2 separate regions of the Homo sapiens genome follow, and region 1 is linked to region 2. The links come from fine-mapping of genetic effects on gene expression. A gene starts in region 2. The other region holds a variant in brackets. All regions are shown on one strand. Distances are between the middles of the regions.

Evidence for each region. PIP is the estimated chance that this variant, and not a neighbour inherited with it, causes the effect.
Region 1: its variant is fine-mapped to the expression of DUSP22 in whole blood (TOPMed, PIP 0.97).

Annotation. Positions count from the first base shown.
Region 1 is chr6:250,031-260,486 of GRCh38, reverse strand. No RefSeq gene overlaps it. Among named protein-coding and RNA genes, the nearest start is that of DUSP22, 37 kb to the left of the region's middle. RefSeq lists a silencer at 5,172-5,372 and an enhancer at 8,294-8,363. The variant T/C (reference allele first, on the strand shown) is at 6,412.
Region 2 is chr6:287,532-296,563 of GRCh38, reverse strand. DUSP22 (dual specificity phosphatase 22) reads right to left here and starts at 4,077. Exons shown (of 7, transcript NM_001286555.3): 1 at 4,004-4,077. The coding sequence starts at 4,024. RefSeq lists silencers at 2,785-2,844, 2,855-2,914, 2,794-2,950, 3,695-4,714 and enhancers at 3,345-3,604, 3,897-4,397, 4,398-4,898, 4,825-5,114.

The DNA.
Region 1 (10,456 bases), 37 kb after region 2:
ATAAAATTCTGATACATGCTACATATGGATGAACCTTGAAGACATTATGCTAAGTGAAATAAACTAGTCATAAAAAGACAAATACTGTACAGTTCCACTTATATGAGGTACCTGTGTCAGGCAAATTCACAGACAGAAAGCAGAATGGTCGTTGTTAGGGGCAAGAATGTGGAGGGAAGGAGGAGTTATTGTTTATTAGTTAGAGTTTCAGTTCAGAAAGATGAAAAAAGTCCTGGCAATGGAGAGTGGTGATGGTTGCACTACAATGTGAATGCGATTAATGCCACTGAACTGTACACTTAAAAATTGTTAAAATGGTATATTTTATGTTACGTATCTTTTACCACAATAAAAATTTATCTAAACTTTCATTTTTGCTTTTTAGCTACCTGGTTAAAACGAAACAAAGATGTAAGTTTGGGGTTTATTTTTGACCATTAAAGAGCACTCAGTTTGTGGTTGTAATATGCTTCCTGCAATATAGTAAGCCTTAAAACGAAAGTGTCTCTTGCACAGCCTAGATGGTCAATAAATCCATTGTGTAAATTTTGTTGGTGTTTGTGATTTGTCACCTATGCCTTCTTATAATAATTGTCCCTTGAGGAACTGTCTCAATGAGAATCCTCAAAGTAACTGTAATGTGCCTTATAAATATGTTGATTTATGCAGGGGTGTCCAATCTTTTGGCTTCCCTAGACCACATTGGAAGAAGAATTGTCTTGGGGCACACATGAAATACACTAACTATAGTTGATGAGCTAAAAAAAATTGCCAATAAATTAAAAAATCTCATAATGTTTTAAGAAAGTTTACAAGCTTGTGTTGGGCCGCATTCAAAGCCATCCTGGACTGCGTGTGGCCCATGGGCCATGGGTTGGACAAGCTTGATTTATGTGGAAGCACATAAAAGGCAAATGCACACATACGTGAAATTCTCTCCAAAGATTAATTACTTGGTCACCGCAGTTTCTTTCCACCAGAATGTAAATTCTATTTTGTTTAGTGCTGCATGCCTAGCTACTACAATAGCATATAGTAAGTGCTCAATAAATAACCGTTGAAAGAATTCTAACACTAATTTGAAAGAAATCCTCTGTCTTCAGCTTCTTAGCTTGTAATTTTGATGTTAGGGACAAGCAACATGGAAAGACTCCCAAAACAAAAGAGGCACCAGTGTCAGCAGCAGGGAAAGGGAAGAGGGGAGGAGGAAGCGATTGCGTGCCCCCATGCCCACAGAGGGGTACTGGGTCCCCAGTCCTGTTCATCTTTGCTGGTGCCTATCCTGGTCTGAGGTTGGAGCTCAGCTCATTGCCTCTGTTGGTGGGACCATGCTGGCAGTACTGGGAACAGAGTGTTTATTGAAGAAGTGAGATACAGTGGCTTTCACAAGAGTTTTCAAATGATCATTTAAAACTTCATCACAGCCCTATTCACAATAGCAAAGACATAGAATCAACCTAGGTGTCCATCAACTGTGGAGCAGATTAAAAAAATGTGGTACATATACTTCATGGAATATTATGCAGCCATAAAAAAGAATGAGCTTGGCCAGGTGCAATGGTTCACACCTGTAATCCCAGCACTTTGGGAGGCCAAGGCGGAAGGACCACTTGGAGCCAAGAGCTTGAGACCAGTCTGGACAACATAGCAAGACCCTGTCACTACAAAAGTAAAAAATAAAAACTCAGGCAAGTGTGGTGGCATGCACCTGTAGTCTTAGCTACTCAAGAGGCTGAAGCAGGAGAGTTGCTTGAGTCCAGGAGGTCAAGGCTGCAGTGAGTGACAGAGCACAATCTTACCTCTATCAAAAAAAAAAAAAAATGTCCTTTGCAGCTGGAGGTCATTATCCTAAGTGAATTAATTAACACAGGAATAGAAAACCAAACACTGCATGTTCTCACTTATAAGTGGGAGCTAAGCACTGGGCATTGGGTACACATGGACATAAAGATGGAAACACTAGACACTGAGGACTACTAGAGGCAGGAGAGAGAGATGGGGACAAGGCTGAAAAACTAAGTTGGGTGCTATGCTTACTACTTGTGTGACGAGATCATTCACGCCCCCAAGCCTTAGCATCATGCAATAAACCCATGCAACAAACATGCACATGTACATCTTGAATCTAAAATACTAGTTGAAATTATAAAATCAAATAAAACTTTTTCTGGGCTTTCAAATTTTGATGCCCTATGGGCAAAGCTACACTCAGCAAAGCCTAGTGTGCACAACAGCATTTGCAGTGACCCACTGGAGTGACCAACCAAAGGGAGACCTATTCTCTTGTCCCCACCTGCTCCTGCCTCTGCCAAGGAAAAGGAAATGCCCGACCTTTCAGACATTGGAAATAACTTTTTTCTTCTCCTTACCCCTTTCTAACTCTTCAGTATAGATGACTAATTCTGCTGCTCATTAAGGGTTGGGGTCACTGTGTAAAGGTTCACCACTCCCCTCTCCTTGGTGTGCTTTCTGTCTCTCTCATCATTTTTTAGAACAGCCTGGTCACAGGATGCACCTGCCCTCCTCTCCTCCATGGGGTGAGCCCAAGGAGCCAGGTGCAGCCCTTGTGGGGAGAGGCCCACAGCTGTCCTGCCTGTGGGTGGGTGGGCCTGGTTAAGTTCAGTGGAAAACCATTCAGACCTTGGGTCCAAGTGGAGGTTTTTTAACCCAGCCTTACCAGAAATAAAGCCAATACACTGACTTATATCTGCTTTCTGTACCTGGTCTTAAAGCTGTAACTGGCAGAGGTGTGGTAAATTTACCTTCTCAAACCCCAACAACAATGGGTTTGATTTTCCTTAGGCACAAAAGACATTTAAAAGTGAGCAAATAAAGATTAGCCAATTCCCTTACATAATAGTTCTGCAGGGCTTTGGCAAGGCTGAAATCAAGGTATACCAGGTTTAGTTCTGGAGAAGCGGAGGACTTGGATGCATGCTTGTCAGTGTGGGTGTCTTCATGGAAGCCTAATTAGCACTTCCCGTTCCCACCTGAGGCCCGAACTAAGCAATCAGCCCAATGAGTACGGATGAAGGTATACTGAGCTTCCCTCCTAAGCTTGTCAAATCTAGCAGTTTTCATTTTTAAACATTACAAAGTTAACTTCTTAAACTTAAAAAAATCCGCTTGTGAGGAGATGTTCTTCCAGGGAAGTGATTATCTGTCTGAGGCACTGACTTCCTCTTAAAGAAAAATTGGAAGTTTTCTTTTCCCCATGGAGATGGCGTCAGAATTAGAATTGCCACATCAAGGGGAGATTTTTCATGATTAGTCAACCAAAGGCAGTCAGAAAAAGATGAAGTTATTTCAAAAAGGAAGCCGCTCCTCCAGGAAGTATTTTTTTCTAGCACACATTTAGTGTTTTAGAGGAAAATGTGTTGACTTTGTAAATGGATATGTTGTCCTTCAATAACACGAGTGGAATTGTCATGCTGAGAAATTTCTTACAAACTTTATTCTTCAAGGAATTTTAGATCTAAGTTAAAATTTTAGACTTGATTTAAGATCATGATCAGCTTACATTTTTTCAATGTCAAAGATTCCTTTCTTTAAAAAGTCCCCATGAGATATGAAATAGATAAATTATGGAAAGTATAACACTGTCACAAAAGTGTGTGTATAATGTATGTTAAATATAATTTAATATTAAACAAAATTATGGAACAAATTTATAGAAGCATATATCAAACAAATACAATTTGACATAAATTATAACAGCTCTCGGCTGGGCACAGTGGCTCACGCCTGTAATCCCAGCACTTTAGGAGGCTGAGGCAGGGAGATCACCTGAGGTCAGGAGTTTGAGACCAGCCTGGCCAACATGGTGAAACACTGACTCTACTAAAATACAAAAATTAGTCAAGTGTGGTGGCGCATGCCTGTAATCCCAGCTACCTGGGACGCTAAGGCAGGAGAATCGCTTGAACCCGGGAGGCCGAGGTTGCAGTGAGCCCAGATCACACCACTGCAGTCCGGCCTGGGCGACAAGAACAGGACTCTGTCTCGAAAAAAAAAAAAAAAAAAGACATCTCTCCCACTCTCCCACCACTATGTCTCCATGTGCTGCCTGCCTGGGAGACAGTGTCAATATAAACCTGTGACCTCTTTGGGGCCCTGACTCCGGGCTAGCAAGGCTCAGACCCATGCATCCTAACTTTGACGTAGCTCTTGTTAGCCAGGGCTGGGAGAATGAGGTGTTCACGCACAAATCAGGCGCAGCTTTTGAGGTCATCCACACATGGCTTTGGTGACAACTGAAGCTCAAGATTCTCCAAAACACTGAGCCAGGGGTCCCCTCTGTCTCTAGCTGGCAGCAAGTAGTTTAACCTCTTTTGTAAAGTTAGGGCAAAGAACAAGATGCTGGGACAGGCTCACTTTAGCTCTAAAATGCCACGATTCTCCATTAGAAACTTTCTTTGGATTTTAGGGTCATGGCTACGAGAATGCAAACGGGCCTCTCTGTCCTCATTGGTCGTTCTTTGTTGATATCAGTATTTTGAAATGGACATGAAAAGCTCTGAGAAAGACTTCTAAGTCACTGAAAACTCAAAAGAGAAGTCATTCCGTCATCACTTCCTACTTGTTTGATACCTTATAAGAAAACACACACGCGTTCTCTGTATTGTAAGATACTAACACATGGCTGTAAACTGTGAATGCACAGTGTCACGTGTCGAGTTTCATGCCTTCCAGGAAGCTCTGTTTCAAAATTGTGTGACTTATTCTCTTCTGCTAATATTCTTTTAATTTCCTCTTAAAGCCAAGAGTGGGGTTCACTTGGTATGTTTTTCTTTACCTATAATTTCACTCTTACTTGATTGTATTCACACGTTCATTCATTCAGAATGCAGGTTCTGAGTACCCACTCTGGGCTAGCACCAGGCACAGAGAGATGAGCAAACCAGCGCTGATCACAGGCCCTACCGGAGCTGGAGGACATGAAACCTTCCCAGGCGTGTCTCTCCCATCCCATTCTCATGGTGGAAGGATGAAAGGCCATTGTTTGACCTTAAACTCCCCAACCTCCACGTCAGCCAGGCCACAGTAGAGTGGATTGGAATGGGAATCACAATTATTCCCTAGGAATTCAGAATGGAGACTTAGACAGAGTTTGTCTCGTATATAAAATGCTGTGGTTGTCGAGGCTATTTTCCATGAAGTAGCAGCTATGGCCAAAGTGAAGAATGAAGCAGGCTGCCAAAAAGACATGGAAACAGAAACGGAGAAGTGACTTTCTGGTTCCCCTCCACATTCAGGGTAATGTCTCTAGCCTTTTACTGAGGCCCAGTTGTATTCCTGCTTATGACTTTTATGAAATACTTCAACTCCTGTAGTATTACAGCAAATCTACCCCTTTGCTTAAGTTAGTCCCAGTCGAGGCTTGACAGTGTCCTTGCTCATAAGCAGATCTCAACTTAGTCAGACAGACTGAGAAATACACTGCAGGACATGGTACTTCACAGAGTGATAGGACCTCAGTTCCTGCATCCCTGGCACATGGTAGGAACCCAATGGCATGCGTGTTGACTTCACAACCAAATGAGTGAAGGAAGCGCAATGAGACCCTGACTCATTTTTTTCCCCAAGTTCCTTCTCTGATAGGATCCTTAGAAATCATCTGGGGCTGGGCAGCGGCTCACGTCTGTAAATCTAGCATTTTGGGAGGCCGAGGTGGGAGGATTGCTTGAGCCCAGGAGCTCAAGACCAGCCGGGACGACATAGTGAGACCCTGTTTCTACAAAAATTAAATAGCTGGGCATGATGGTGTGTGTCTGTAGTCCCAGCTACTTGAGAGGCCAAGATGGGAAGATCGCTTGAACCCAGGAGGTCAGGGGCTGTGTGATTGTGCCAGTCCTGGGCAACAGAGCAAGACCCTCTCTCAAAAACAAAGCAAACAAACAAAAAAGAAATAATTTGGTTCAAATGTGTCTTCTACAGAAGAGGAGGCTGAGTCCAGTGAGGTAGAAATCATTTGCTCAAGGTCACACAGCTATACCTGCTGCAGAACTGAAGCTATAATTCACGTCTCTAAGCTCTAAATCCAACGTCCTTTCCACTATCCCAGGATGCCCCCTTCCTGCCGAACCAACTTTCGTTGACCTCAAGAAGGCAAAAAGCCCCCAAAGTCAACCTCCCCTCTTTAAAACCTCTTTAATACAGATTCATAATTCAGCCATCATGCAGAAAAGCACTCAGAAAGGAAATTCCTGATGCTGCTCACCATGGGCTTGGCCAGCCACAGACATGATCCAGCCCATGGGGGAGCCGCCCCGTGCTGGCGTGTCATGAAGACACCAGTATGAGGCAACCGAGACAGCCCACAAAAGGATTCTTGGTTTTATTGTCCCTTGAGACGGGATTGTTCTCTGCCCTTGCCGGTTTTGCATGCTTCTTAAACCCTGTTTGAATAAA[T/C]GAAGAATTAATTATGAATAAATGAAGACTTAATTTCCCCAAAATGGATGAGCCAAGCCATTCCCTCTAGTACAAAGATGTGAAAGGCATATCTGAGTGGGATCTGGGAGGGACTTAAAAATAAAACAAAATAAATCAGCTTGTTAATCAGGAGACACAAAGTGAAAACCCCACGTTAAAAAGGGAGGCAAGGGAATGATGGACAAGGATTTAGAGTCACAGTTACCAGCCTGCGAGTCAGGTGGGGCGAAGCAGGGACAGAAGGTCGCAAAGGAGCAGAAAATCTGAGTTAAATTGTCATTGTCCGGCAGGGCATGGTGGCTCACGTGTGTAATCCCAGCACTTTGGGAGGCTGAGGTGGGGGGATCACCTGACGTCAGGAGTTCGAGATCAGCCTGGCCAACATGATGAAATCCTGTCTCTACTAAAAACACAAAAATTAGCCGGGTGTGATGGCGCATGCCTGTAATCCCAGCTACTCAGGAGGCTGAGGCAGGAGAATTGCTTGAGCCTGGGAGGCAGAGGTTGCAGTGAGCCGAGGTCATGCCACTGCCCTCCAGCCTGGGCGACAGAGTGAGACTGTGTCTCAAAAAAAAAAAAAATTCATAGTCCTGGCTTATGGATCAGTGGTGATGGGTGGTGGGTCCGTGGGTGTTTTTTTTGTATTATTAGAAATAAATAAATGAGTAAATTAATAGAAAAGGGCCGTGCATGGGCCAGTGGGGAAGTGTGTGGTGAAGCAAGAATTATGAGTCATCTGATTCTGTGCAACCGAGGCCCATGAATGAAACAGTAAAATAAAGCGTAATTAAGGTGCCAACATAATTTCCTCTCCAACTAGAAAATAAACACTTCATGGCATCCCTAAGAGTTTTGGATTTATTATGATTTTACCTGTTGAGATAAATAATCTGTCACTGTAGGTAGAAATTGAAAGTCTCTTTGGTCTGTTTAATATCTGTGTTAAGCTGTCATACATGCATGTCAGCTGTAATTTATAGAATAATAGAAACAATAATGCCTGGCTTACCATTCTAGAATAAGACACTCTACGCTGACCTTGGGTTTCCTGTGTATGGCTTACAAGATCAGACTGACATGCTAAAATTTGTTTTCGTTTCAGTTATGAAATAATTAAGGACAGGCTTTTTCAGGTCCTTCAGTGTTGTTTAAATGAATGAGAAGGTATGTTTCTTTGACTTTCTGAAACAGGGTTTAAGAAGCATGCAAAACTTAGAAGGAAAACAAGAACAAACTGACTAAGGAAGCATTTTGAATGAGTTCGGGTGCAGTGAAATCCTTCGGTGGGCAACTATTAGATCATTTCTGTGCAATCAAATCTTCTAGACTGAATAAAGATAAGCCAGCTTCATCTTAGAGAAAAAGAAACTTTTTGATATATGAGATAATCACAATGCAGAGGTAGATGAGGGAGAGTTTAAGGGGACGGTTTGCAGAAAAGGCTGTCGAATCCCTAAAAATAACAAGGCACTGCCACAGTCATTGGAAAACTCAAATCCTGAGGTGAGGTAATACTAGGAAAATGCTAAGTTCACTAAAATAGTTTTTTCCGCTGCAGTTTAAACACAAGTTTAGAGAGTATTTTTGTTGCTGATGGTGGTTGGTTTTGTTTTTTAAAGTATATTAAAGAAAAAATAATTCATCTCCTTCTAATAACAACAAAATTGAGACCTCTGTTGCAAGGATGAAATGATGGATTATCTCCTCTCTTTATCAAATCATCACTCTGGAATTAATATAAGAATCATAATCTTATTTACCTAGCTCTGTGTGAAAGTGGTCATCTATCAATATATGTGACATTTCATTCAGTAAGAAAGGAAAGAAACTTGCAACCAACTTTCAGGGAAGAAATAACATTTCCTCTGAACAATTCTAAGGAGGAAGGCAAAGTAGAGTTTCATGTTCTCAATTCTGCTGAAGATATGAATCATCACACCTTTGCTAGCAGTTACATGTCATAAGGGCTTTGAGATGCCAAGTGAGTCAAGCCCATTTGTGACATTTGATAGGCCTACTTTTTATCCATGTGGCACTACAGAATGGATTCAAATCTCACTAGAACAATCTTTCTCTTTCTCTCGCTCAGTCTTTTTCTTCTGTGTTTTTCTAGAGTCGAGAAGTTTTAAAGAGGAGGGGCTAGGAGACCAAACATATCAAAAGAAGCCATGGGGGAGCAAAATCCAAAGGAATCTGTCGCATGTAAAGAGATAATATTTTTGCTTTCTTGTTTTTCCTATAGTTGCTGTCAAGGAGATGAGCCCAAGTAATAAGGAGGATAGGTAGATGACAGGGATGGGGAGAAACTTCAAATTAACATTTTTATTTTAACATGTGTATACCAGACACAAACTATTGAAGCCGAGAGAGGGGTAAATAAGAAATACGAATAGACATGTAGCAGGTAAGGAGATTGAATTGGTAATTAAAAACTTCCTACCAAAAAGCTCAGACTCACATGGCTTCATTGGTGAATTCTATCAAATGCAGAATTAGCAACAATCTCTCATAAACTTTTTTTTTTTTCCTTAGACGGAGTTTCGCTCTTGTTGCCCAGGCTGGAGTGCAGTGGTGTGATCTCGGCTCACTGCAACCTCCACCTCCCGGGTTCAAGCAATTCTCCTGCCTCAGCCTCCTGAGTAGCTGGGATTACAGGCATGTGCCACCACACCTGGCTAATTTTGTATTTTTAGTAGAGATGGGGTTTCTCCATGTTGGTCAGGCTGGTCTCGAACTCTCAACCTCAAGCGATCCGCCTGCCTCAGCCTCCCAAAGTGCTGGGATTACAAGCATGAGCCACCACGCCCGGACCCTCTCATAAACTCTTAAAAAGAGAAGAGGAGGAAACACTTTTCACCTTATTCTATGTCGCCAGTATTACCCTGATACCAAAACCAGTCAAAGATATCATAAGAAAAGTACAAACCAATATCCCTTATACATATCAATACAAACATCCTCAACAAAACACAAACTGAATCCAATGAGATTCATCCAAAGAAGATAAGGATGCTTTAACTTTGAAAAATCAGTCAATGTAATGCACTGTATTAATAGCATGACAACAAAACCACATAGTCATCTGAAGAGATGGGAAAAAAAGCATTTTACAAAATTTAACAATCTTTCATAATACAAACACACAAAAACTAAGAATAGAAGGGAACTTCCTCCACCTGATCAAGGGAATCTACAAACAAACCACACCTAACATTACACATGTGGTAAAAGACAGAATGTTTTTGCCCTAAGGAAGTCCACTCTCACCACTTCTATTCAACATTGCAATGGAGGATCAAGCCAGGACAATTAGACAAGAAAGAAAAGTGAAAGACATCAGATGGGAAAGAAAGAAGTAAAACTATCTCTGTTTGTAGATGACATGATCTAATATTAAAAATTCTAAGCATGCCACAAAATAAACTATTAGGCATATAAAATTAGTTCATTAAGGTTGCTGGGTAGCAGATCAATATACAAAAGTCGGTTGGTTCTATACACTAGCAATGAACAATTTGAAAATAAAAGTAAGAAAATAGTTCCATTTATAATAGTATCAAAAAGAATAAAATATTTTAAGGATAGATTTTTCCAAAAAATTCAAGACTTCTACACTGAAAACTATAGTACAAAACATCATTGGAAGAATTACAGAGGATCTAAATTAATGGAAGACATCTCATGAACATAGATTGGAATACTCAATACTTATTGTTAAGACGGCAGTACTCCCCAAATTGATCTACAGATTCAATATAATCCCTATCATTATCCCAGCTGGCTTTTTTTTTTCGGCAGAAACTGACAAGCTTATTATACAATTCATACGGAAAGGCAAGGCACCAAGAATAACCAGAACAATCTTGAAAAATTAAAACAAAGTTGAAAGACTCACACGTCCTGATTTTAAAGCTTACTACAAAGTGACAGTAAGCAAGACAGTGTGGTACTAGCCGGACATGTAGATCAATGGAAGAGAATTTAGAGTCCAGAAATAAATCCTTATGTTTGTGGCCAATCAATT
Region 2 (9,032 bases):
GTTTTCAAAGGCTCCACAGGAACACGACATTTGCATGCAACACCCTGTTTAGTTTAACCCTAATCTTACCAGAGACATTTACTAGACTAATATCTTAGCAGCGTGGTGAGGCACTCTGCATTGTGGCCGAGCCAGACTGTGGCTTTGAGTCCAGGCTCTGCTACTCACCAGCTGGGTGACCCTGGCAGTTCCCTTAGCCTCTGTGTACAACCAGAAAACAGGCATGAAAATAACAGGATCTACTTCATGGAGTTGTGGCTTACTCTATGTGGTAAAGTACTCAAAACACACCATAAACTCATTGGCAATTATAATTTTGGCCAGTGTGGGGCATCTACCTAGGAATTGCACACACAAACAAAAACAATAAAAAAAAAGTTTTAGTTTCTTGCCTGTAATTACCCCCTTCCTTATCAATGTCAAACATAAAGGAAGAGAGGAGGTGATTTTGGCTATTTGACAAGTAATCGAAGCTATGAGGAGCTTTTCAAGTTACTTTTTAGGAATTTTAAAACTTACTTGGGATGAATTAGCATCTCAGCTCAAAGGAAAGACTTTTCCTATCTTCAAAATCAGTGGAGACTGGGTTCTGCCCTGCCTGGCATTACTTATGCTACCTAACCTCTCCAAATCTCCATTCCCCAATCTGGGCAAATATAAGGTCGTTTGACCTCATAGGGCTACCGTGAGGCTGAGATTTTATAAAGTGTTAAAAAAAATGGTTCACAACTGTGTTGTTGTTGGGTTTTTTTTTTTTTTTTTTTGAAACAGGGTCTCGCTCTGTCGCTCAGGCTGGAGTGCGGTGGCACAATCACGACTCGCTCCAGCCTAGACTTCCCGGGCTGAGGTGATTCTCCCACCTCAGCCTCCCAAGTAGCTGGGACTACAGGCACAAGCCACCACACACTCGGCTGATTGCTTTGTTTTTGTGGGTTTTTTTTTTGTATTTTTGGTAGAAACAGGGTTTTGCCATGTTGCCCAGGCTGGTTCTAAACTCCTGGACTCAAGCAGTCCACCTGCCTCAATCTCCCAAAGTGCTGTGATTACAGGCACGAGCCACCACGCCCAGTCCTGTCTTTATTTCCTCATCTTTAATTTTCTAGAATATAAAAGCCTTTTTCCCCTCCATCTTCTGTATAATCTGCTGCGTACACCTAACGGAAACGGGCACAATATTCCGCCGTACAGGAGCCCGGAACGGACCGACAAGAAGAGCCACCACAGGGATGTGAATGATAAAAACTGCTGTCCCAAAGCACTCAGAATGCAGCGTGCACTGTTTAGACCAGAAATGCTCTTTTGCCAAAAATGACCAATGTGTACGAGATTGGAAAGAAATCTTGTCCCAGTAACCTCAGGGCACACACATTCCAAGTTATGTTAGTTCCAAAGACATTGCACATATTTATAAATGTTCTTAGAAAAGGATTTCTAGGGGTAGCACCTTCCGCTGATTCTGCAAATCAACCATTCTTCTTTTTTTACAGATGAAGCCTCGTTCCAAGTCACACAGTAATATATGGAAAAGTTCTAGTTAAGGTTCTTAAGTTACTGGCCTCCTGCGATCTACTTTGCCACTAATGAACCTTGTGATTTGGGGTAGTTCCTCCTGATCTCACGTTAAACATGTTTACTGCAGCAGGATTCCTTGCCTGGGCTGAATGCCCCTTCTAGGTCACTTTCATCCCATCTTCTGCTTTCCCCACTTTTCTGAAATTGCCTATTTTATCCTCTGGAGCCTCTACTCCTCCCTACCTTGTGTTTGTTCTCTCTCTCACCCCCACACACATACACACCCTGTGTTGTGCAACACAGCAGCCATTAGCCACAGTGACTATCGAGTACTCCAAATGTGGCTAGTCCAAAATGAGATGTGATTTAGGCATAAAATACACACTAGACTTTGAAGGTTAAGTGATCTGGGGGTCCCGAGATTTTTCCTTTCACAAAGACATAGTAAAAAACATGGAATCTTCCATGAATAACTTTATATATTGGTTACATGTTGAAACAATAGTTTTAATATATTGTTAAATAAAATATATTATTAAAATTAATTTCACCGGTTTATTTTTTAATGTGGCTACCGGAACATTTTAAGTTACATATATAGCTCGCATCATATTAGTGCTGGACAATGCTGACCTGTACTGAAGGTTCTGTGAAGAATCTTTGGGTCATTTACCACTGTACTCCCTTTGCCCCCTCCCCACCCACTAGCACAACACCTGGCTCATAGTATGTACATAATCAATAAGTGTTGAAGCAGGGAAGTCTCTAAATCTCTCTATACATGTATTTCTTCATTGATACACTGTGAGTCTCTATTCACAAGATAATAAAAGTCAAGAAATTTATTACCCATTTTGAAAGGTAAAAAGTATATGAATATTACTGCTTTTGTTGAAAAGCATGAAAATAACGTTGATCCCTTAGGCAACCATCTGTATTCCTAAATATATTTTTTGAATTGTATTACACAAATACTATAAATTAAATGCTGAAAACGGTGGAGAGTGAACAGCTCAAGTGGGAAAACTAGAAACAGCCAAAGGAAAGCTGAGATACCACCACCAATGGGAAGGCAAACGGAGCCCACAGACTTATGATGACCATCTTTATTGTTCTGTTTTAATTTAAAAAGCAGAAGGCTCGTGGTGCTGATGGATTCCAGTGCTCATCGGAATATAATACAAGTATTTATCCAAGAGAGAGACAGTCTGTTTCCAAACTTGATCACTCGCCAAAAAAAAAAAAAAAAAAAAAGTGAATACAATTCTCTTTACCAAAATACCCCAGTATTGATATGCAGGTCCCAAACACACAATAGTTCTTTCACAAACTGGGTAACCAGGACACAATAAACACGACATGCGCACGTGAAAAGTTAGCTAGGTTTTCCCTGCCCTACCGTGAATCCGCATTTGCAACACTCCAGCCCCAACACCCAAACCACTGCTGACCCAGTGCTGAGGGACATGAAAAAAAACACAGCCACATTGCCATCCCCACCCAGTGTGGAAGCTGACGGCATGTAGAGATGTGGGTGGGTGGAGCGCAATGAAAAAGTGAAGCAGAAAGACGACTCATCTAATCCAGGACCATTCAAAGACCCGTAAAAAGGTACTTGTCTTTGTTGCGGGCTTTGTAAAGTCTTGTCAATCCTTCCTCGAAACCAGCCAAGTACCAAGTAACAAAATCCTTAACCCTGTGGTTCACATGAATACACCCCGGCAACTCTCAGCTGCCAGAGCTGGAATCTGGCAACTTCCCTGGACGGGAAAGGCTAGCCCACCGCCCGGGAAGTGAGGTGCGGGCAACAAAAGAACACAGGGTGGGGCCCAGAAACGGACGGGACAAATGGAGCAACACAGATTTTCCAGAAGGCCTCATCAGCGCAAGCAGCCAGCAACAGGTTGCCCTTGTTGCAGAAGTCACATAACCTAATCAACTCTGAATCTTTTCTCTCCTCCCCACTATCTAGAAACAGCTCAGGACTTAGGACTCTGTTAACTTCTCTGTCCACAAGAAAAACTTCTCTGTGCTCACAGGCACACACACAGAATCTGAGGAGAAAGAGGAAATTACAGAGGACACCCGTTTACTAATGATGTGGGGGGGGCGGTGGTGGCTTCAAGAGCGTAGTTTGGGAGCGAAGAGGAGGGCAAAAAAGAAGCCACATCCATTCGGAGCTCAGCTGACCTCTCGGCAGAACAAGTGTCAACGCTTTCAAAGGGCGCGGCTTGTTTCAGCCACGAAAACGCACCGGCTGGCAAGGCAGGCGGCTGGGGGCTGCCTACCCGGAAGCCGGGTGGGGTGGGGGCGGGAACACCTCCGAACCCCGACTCCGCGGTCGCCGCCCAGGCGCGCCGCCCCTCCCTCCGCGCCCGTCCCCACCGCGGGAAAGGGCACCCCGGGCTCGAGTCGTCGGGCAGCCGACGCCGGCGAGACGGCAGGGCGTCGGAGCGGAGGCAAACCCAGCGCGAACGAGGGAAGACGTTACCTTGTTCATCCCATTCCCCATGGTGGCTGAAGGCGAACGCTAGCGCCCCGGCCGTGTGGTCGCAGGCGCACTATGGCATGTTACAGGGAGGAGGAGCGGCGGGGCGGGCGGGGAGGAGGCGCGCGGGAGGGACTGAGTGCTCGCAGTGTCAACAAGTCAGCGGCAGGGACCGGCCGGGCAACCCAGGGCGCTCCAGAGACCCGGCGTGGAGGGCAGGGCTTTCTGTGCGGCGGCCTAGAACTTCCCGGCGGGAGCCGGGCAGGGGCACCGGAGCCTATGCCGGGAAATGGTCCCGCCTTGCCGGTCCCCGCCCCCGTGCGCACCGGGCAGGCCCAGCGTCCCTCCTCGCTCCGCCCGCCCGCACCCTGGGATTCGTAGTCGGGTTCCTGGCTGCCGCGCCCCACTCCGCCCTCGCGGACCCCGGCTCGCGGCCGCCGGGCGTGGGAGGCACTAGGCTCGGGCTCCCAGGCGGCCGGCCCCGGAGGCCAGAGCGCGTGCGCGGCCCGAGCCGCCCCGCCGGGACACCCGAGGCTGCGCGGCGGGGCCTGGCGGACGCGCAGGCGCTGCCCTGACCGGGCGGCTGCGCTCGTCTCGGAGCCCGCTCCCCGGCCGGGGGTCTCCAGATCCCCCTTTGGCCTTTTCCCCTGGGGCGACTCCGGGGGCCAGTTACCAGCAGTCGCTACCCAGCCTTGGCTGCCTCCGTGAATCAGGTGCTAATCAGAGGCCTGGTCTCTGGGGGCTCCCCTGCCTGGGTTTTCTGAGTGCGGCAGATTTAGGCTGGGGGATTTCCTGCGGCCCTGCCCCATGCACCAAGACCGAGAAGCCTCGCCTGGTGGGGAGAGGTGGGCTACGTGACTCACCCCGGGGAGGCCCGACCTCCCTACCCTGGGGGAGCAGATGGCTGGATCTCTGACCTCAGACCTCACGGCCTTAGATGATGTGTGTCCCTTAATGTCTGCATTGTGGTTCTGTCTGGAATGGATCAATTTCTAAACTGTAGCAGAATTGTTTTGGGTGTTCTATCAACGTTATTAAACTCTGAAGTTTCTCTCCAGCGACAGAATCCTTGAGCCAGTGGTTTTTCTTCTTAATTTATGTATCCTCAACAATGTCCTGAACATAGTAGGTGCTTAATAAATATTTGCTGAATGAGTACATGCGTCAATCTGACGTGCCCTGGCTCACCCCTGCTGACTTCATTTTATCTTCTTGCTAAGCGAGTTACACACATGCTGGTCTCCTGTCTGTTCCTTGAGCCTGTCAGGCTTGCTGGGCTGTGCTCTCTATCCAGACACCTGGATCCCCAGCTCTCTGCATACCTGCCTGTTATCGCTGAGGTATCAGCCCAAATGCCATCTCTCCTAAGAGGCTTTTCCTAACCACCCAATTCCAGGTTGGTCCTCCAGTCACTATCATATTACTCCGTATTATTGATCGGAAATACATGTATTTGCTTTCTTTTTATCTGTCTCACTAGCCAGCAACTTTCAGATTAAAAAAAAAAAAAAAGTTGTCTTATTCAGTAATACAGCCATGTGGCCTGGGACAAAATCTAGCACAAAATAGTGATTTTTAAAATATTTGTCAAATAAATTAATAATTTCTTGTGGCCGAGAAAACGGGTGAGGTTCTGAGGAATGTGAACGTTTGGAAAGAGCTTGTAGACTCCATCTGTCGCCATTTCTGTACTTGTACCCCATATCTTCTGGGCAACAAATGGTATCAAAACCCCCCGTGTAGAAAGCCCTCAATCAATATGCGCTTGCATGTTTTCTCTAGGTAGAATGGGACCCAGACCCGGAGTGCCCTTTCTGCCTCTTGTTTTGGGAGAGTGTTCCTTCTTCACTGCCTTCACTTCCTCTTCTCCCGCCTGCTTCTCAGTCACCTGGACAGCCTGCCCTTTCCCCTCTGCCACACACTGCCATTAAGTAACTGTTTTTACCACCTTCCTGCTTAGAGACAACACAGAATCGTTAGTGGACTGCCTGGGGAATCCCAGTAATCAGCCTCTATTTCTAATTCTTAAGGAGGTCTTGAGCAAGATGATCAACTTTTCTGAGCTAGCTTTTTTTTTCTCTTTAAAACAAGAGCATTAAACTGTGAATTTTTGAAGCTTCTATCCAGCAACCAATGAATTACTTCTGCAGCCTTCTGCCCTCCTTGGGCCATTCATCCAACAGTCAGATGAACGTTTAAGAACACAACCAGTTCATAAACTGGTACTTGACCATGAATGACAAATTCATACTGATTTTTTTCTTCTGTCATCCACTTGCAATATTTCTCTCTTATTCATACTCTTCTTGTAGATATATTTCTCCAGCTTGGACCATCTGCTTTTCCCCCTAAACTCAGAACCTGCCATGGCTTCCTCCTTACCGTCAAAATCAGCATTCAGTATGGCCTAAAAGGTCCACATGCCCAGAGTTCCTATCAAAATCTCAAATTTTTCTTTTGGGTTAAATAGGAAAAGAGGAGACTATTAACACCAGAAGTCAGAAGAGTAAGATTTAAAAAAAAAAAAATTATTGGTTTTGGCTGGGCGTGGTGGCTCAAGCCTGTAATCCCAGCACTTTGGGAGGCCGAGGCGGGCCGATCACCTAAGGTCAGGAGTTCTCGACCAGCCTGGCCAACATGGCAAAATCCCGTCTCTACTGAAAATACAAACATTAGCCGGGCGTGGTGGCGTGTGCCTGTAATCCCAGCTACCCGGGAGGCTGAGGCAGGAGAATCGCTGGAACCCAGGAGGCAGAGGCTGCAGTGAGCCAAGATTGTGCCACTGCACTTCTGCCTGGGCAACAGAGCAAGACTCCGTCTCAAAAAAAAAAAAATTATTGATTCTGTGGGGTTGGGGGGTTTCCCACAAGAGACTTGCTGTACTCTCCTCCACCCTAACCCTGAACACCTCTCTTTATTACAATAATAATTCCCAGTTGTTCATGTCTTGCAGTTCTATGACTTTTACTCTCTAGCTCTTGATTATGGAAAGAAAGGAAGAAGGGAAACACTTCAACAAAGCTGGCGTATTTCACATCCATAGTAGAATCTCTATTCATTTGTGCTTTATCTCACTCATAAAAATTTTAAGGCATCACAAGCCTGGTGGATTTTCACACTATGTAAGATTTTTACTTCCACTTTTCTTCTTGTTATTTTCTTCCTCTCAGTTCTGCCAACATCACAAATTTTGGCAACAACTCCGAAAGAAGTCAAGCCTTCATGTGTGCACAATAAGGAATGGTCTACAGAGTGTGTAGGATAGCTGAGTCCATACTTACACATGGTTAAGGATAACTGGTTAATAGTGTATTTAGTGAGCAGTAACCTTAAACTTTAAGGTGGCGGTGTTTAAAAGCCCGCAAGCAGAAGCTCAACCATTAGAGTTAGCCAAATCATTATAGGTGTTAGTGATAATTTCAGAGCATCAAGATTAACCTCTATCCAACAGAGAAGTAATTATGTAATCTTCACTGGCCTCTTGAACATATTGCAGTCCAGGGTTTCTCAACCTCGGCAAAACTGACATTTGAGGCTGGATACATTTTTGCTCTAGAAGGCTGTCCTGTGCACTGCAGAATGTTCAGAAGCATCTCTGACTTGTGCTCATTACATTTCAGTAGCACCCTCTCAGTCATGACAATCAGAAATGTCTCCAACCCCCTCTCCTCAATAACCAGCTAAATCTACACTAATAGATCATGTTAGTTCTCTGCAGAATTCTTAAGCCACAATTGTTCATTATTAACAAATTGAGAACAAGAAGTTAAAATGAAGATCTAATCTAGCCAAAGCCTGACTAAAAGTAAAAGAAAGTGAGAATCTAATGAATTGTGGAAAGAAGAAAAAAGGTGGAACCTGGAACTACGGAAGCAAAAGCACAAAACATTTTCTCTGTTTCTCCAGCATTGTCCAGAGAGAGGCTGCCCAGTTGAATACCTGAGTTCTCAAGGCCATGCAGAACAGCCTGACCATGAGGATGGGCCCCTGTGGTATACGACCTCAACTCTTCAAAGGTCACAATTTCCAGCCTTCCAAGCAGTCTTCTAATTATGAACGTGGTTTCCTCCTTTCGCTGAAGAGATTTGCGGGGCTCAGATCTCAGCACGGATATCTGGAGAGTGTGGGGTCAGGGAAGAGCAGCAAGAGGAATGGATATCCAGGTAAATGACTGGGAGGGCAGAGAATCTGGGAGCAGGTAAAGGGAAAATGTTCTCAGGCATTTAGTTGGGAGTCAACAAAAGTCTGTGGACAGAGTTCCTGGGAGGATTGGCAGAGGCTTGCAGGAATGAAGTTATCAGGCAGATTATAAAACAGTGCCAAGCAAAGGGGAAATAAGACAGAGCCCTGGTTCCTAAAATTTGGAGGTCACATTATTATCAGCCTGCAGGTCAGAACATACATGCCTGTGTATTCTCAGGACAACTGTTGTTTTCCCCCAAATGGTAGCTGCCTGAGGGCAGGGACCAGTTGTTAATCAATCTCAGTATCCAGCATCTAAGATAGTCCCTAGTGTGTGGGGAACTATGTAGATGTTTGTTGATTTAGGAAAGAAATACATCTGGGAGGCTGTTGAATTTGTCCAGGCATAAGGATCACAAATAATTCATCCTTTGATATGCCAGAGACTCCATCAATACTGCATCTCCTCATGTTTCCTTTTCTTGAGCAATGTAGTTTCCATGTGAGATGGCTCTCTAGGAGTAACCAGAATCCTGTTGTCTTTTGTTTCTGAAACAGATATAGGGCACACTCAACAGAGAGAGAGAGAAAGAGAGAGGAGAGAGAGAGGAGAGAGAGGAGAGAGTCCTTGCACACAATGCTTCCGTGTATTGCTGTACTCCACCCCTTGGTCTACAGCCATAGCCGTACTTGGCAGAGCACAAGACTCTCTGTGGTTCTGCCTCTTGGCATCATGTTGTTTTTTGATCTTTGGTAAGAAACCATGCCTGACTTATGCATGGCCATCATGGAAGTTGCTTGTGTTCATTTTCCGTGTGTGGAATGGTCTGACTTGGCCCATCTACTTCCC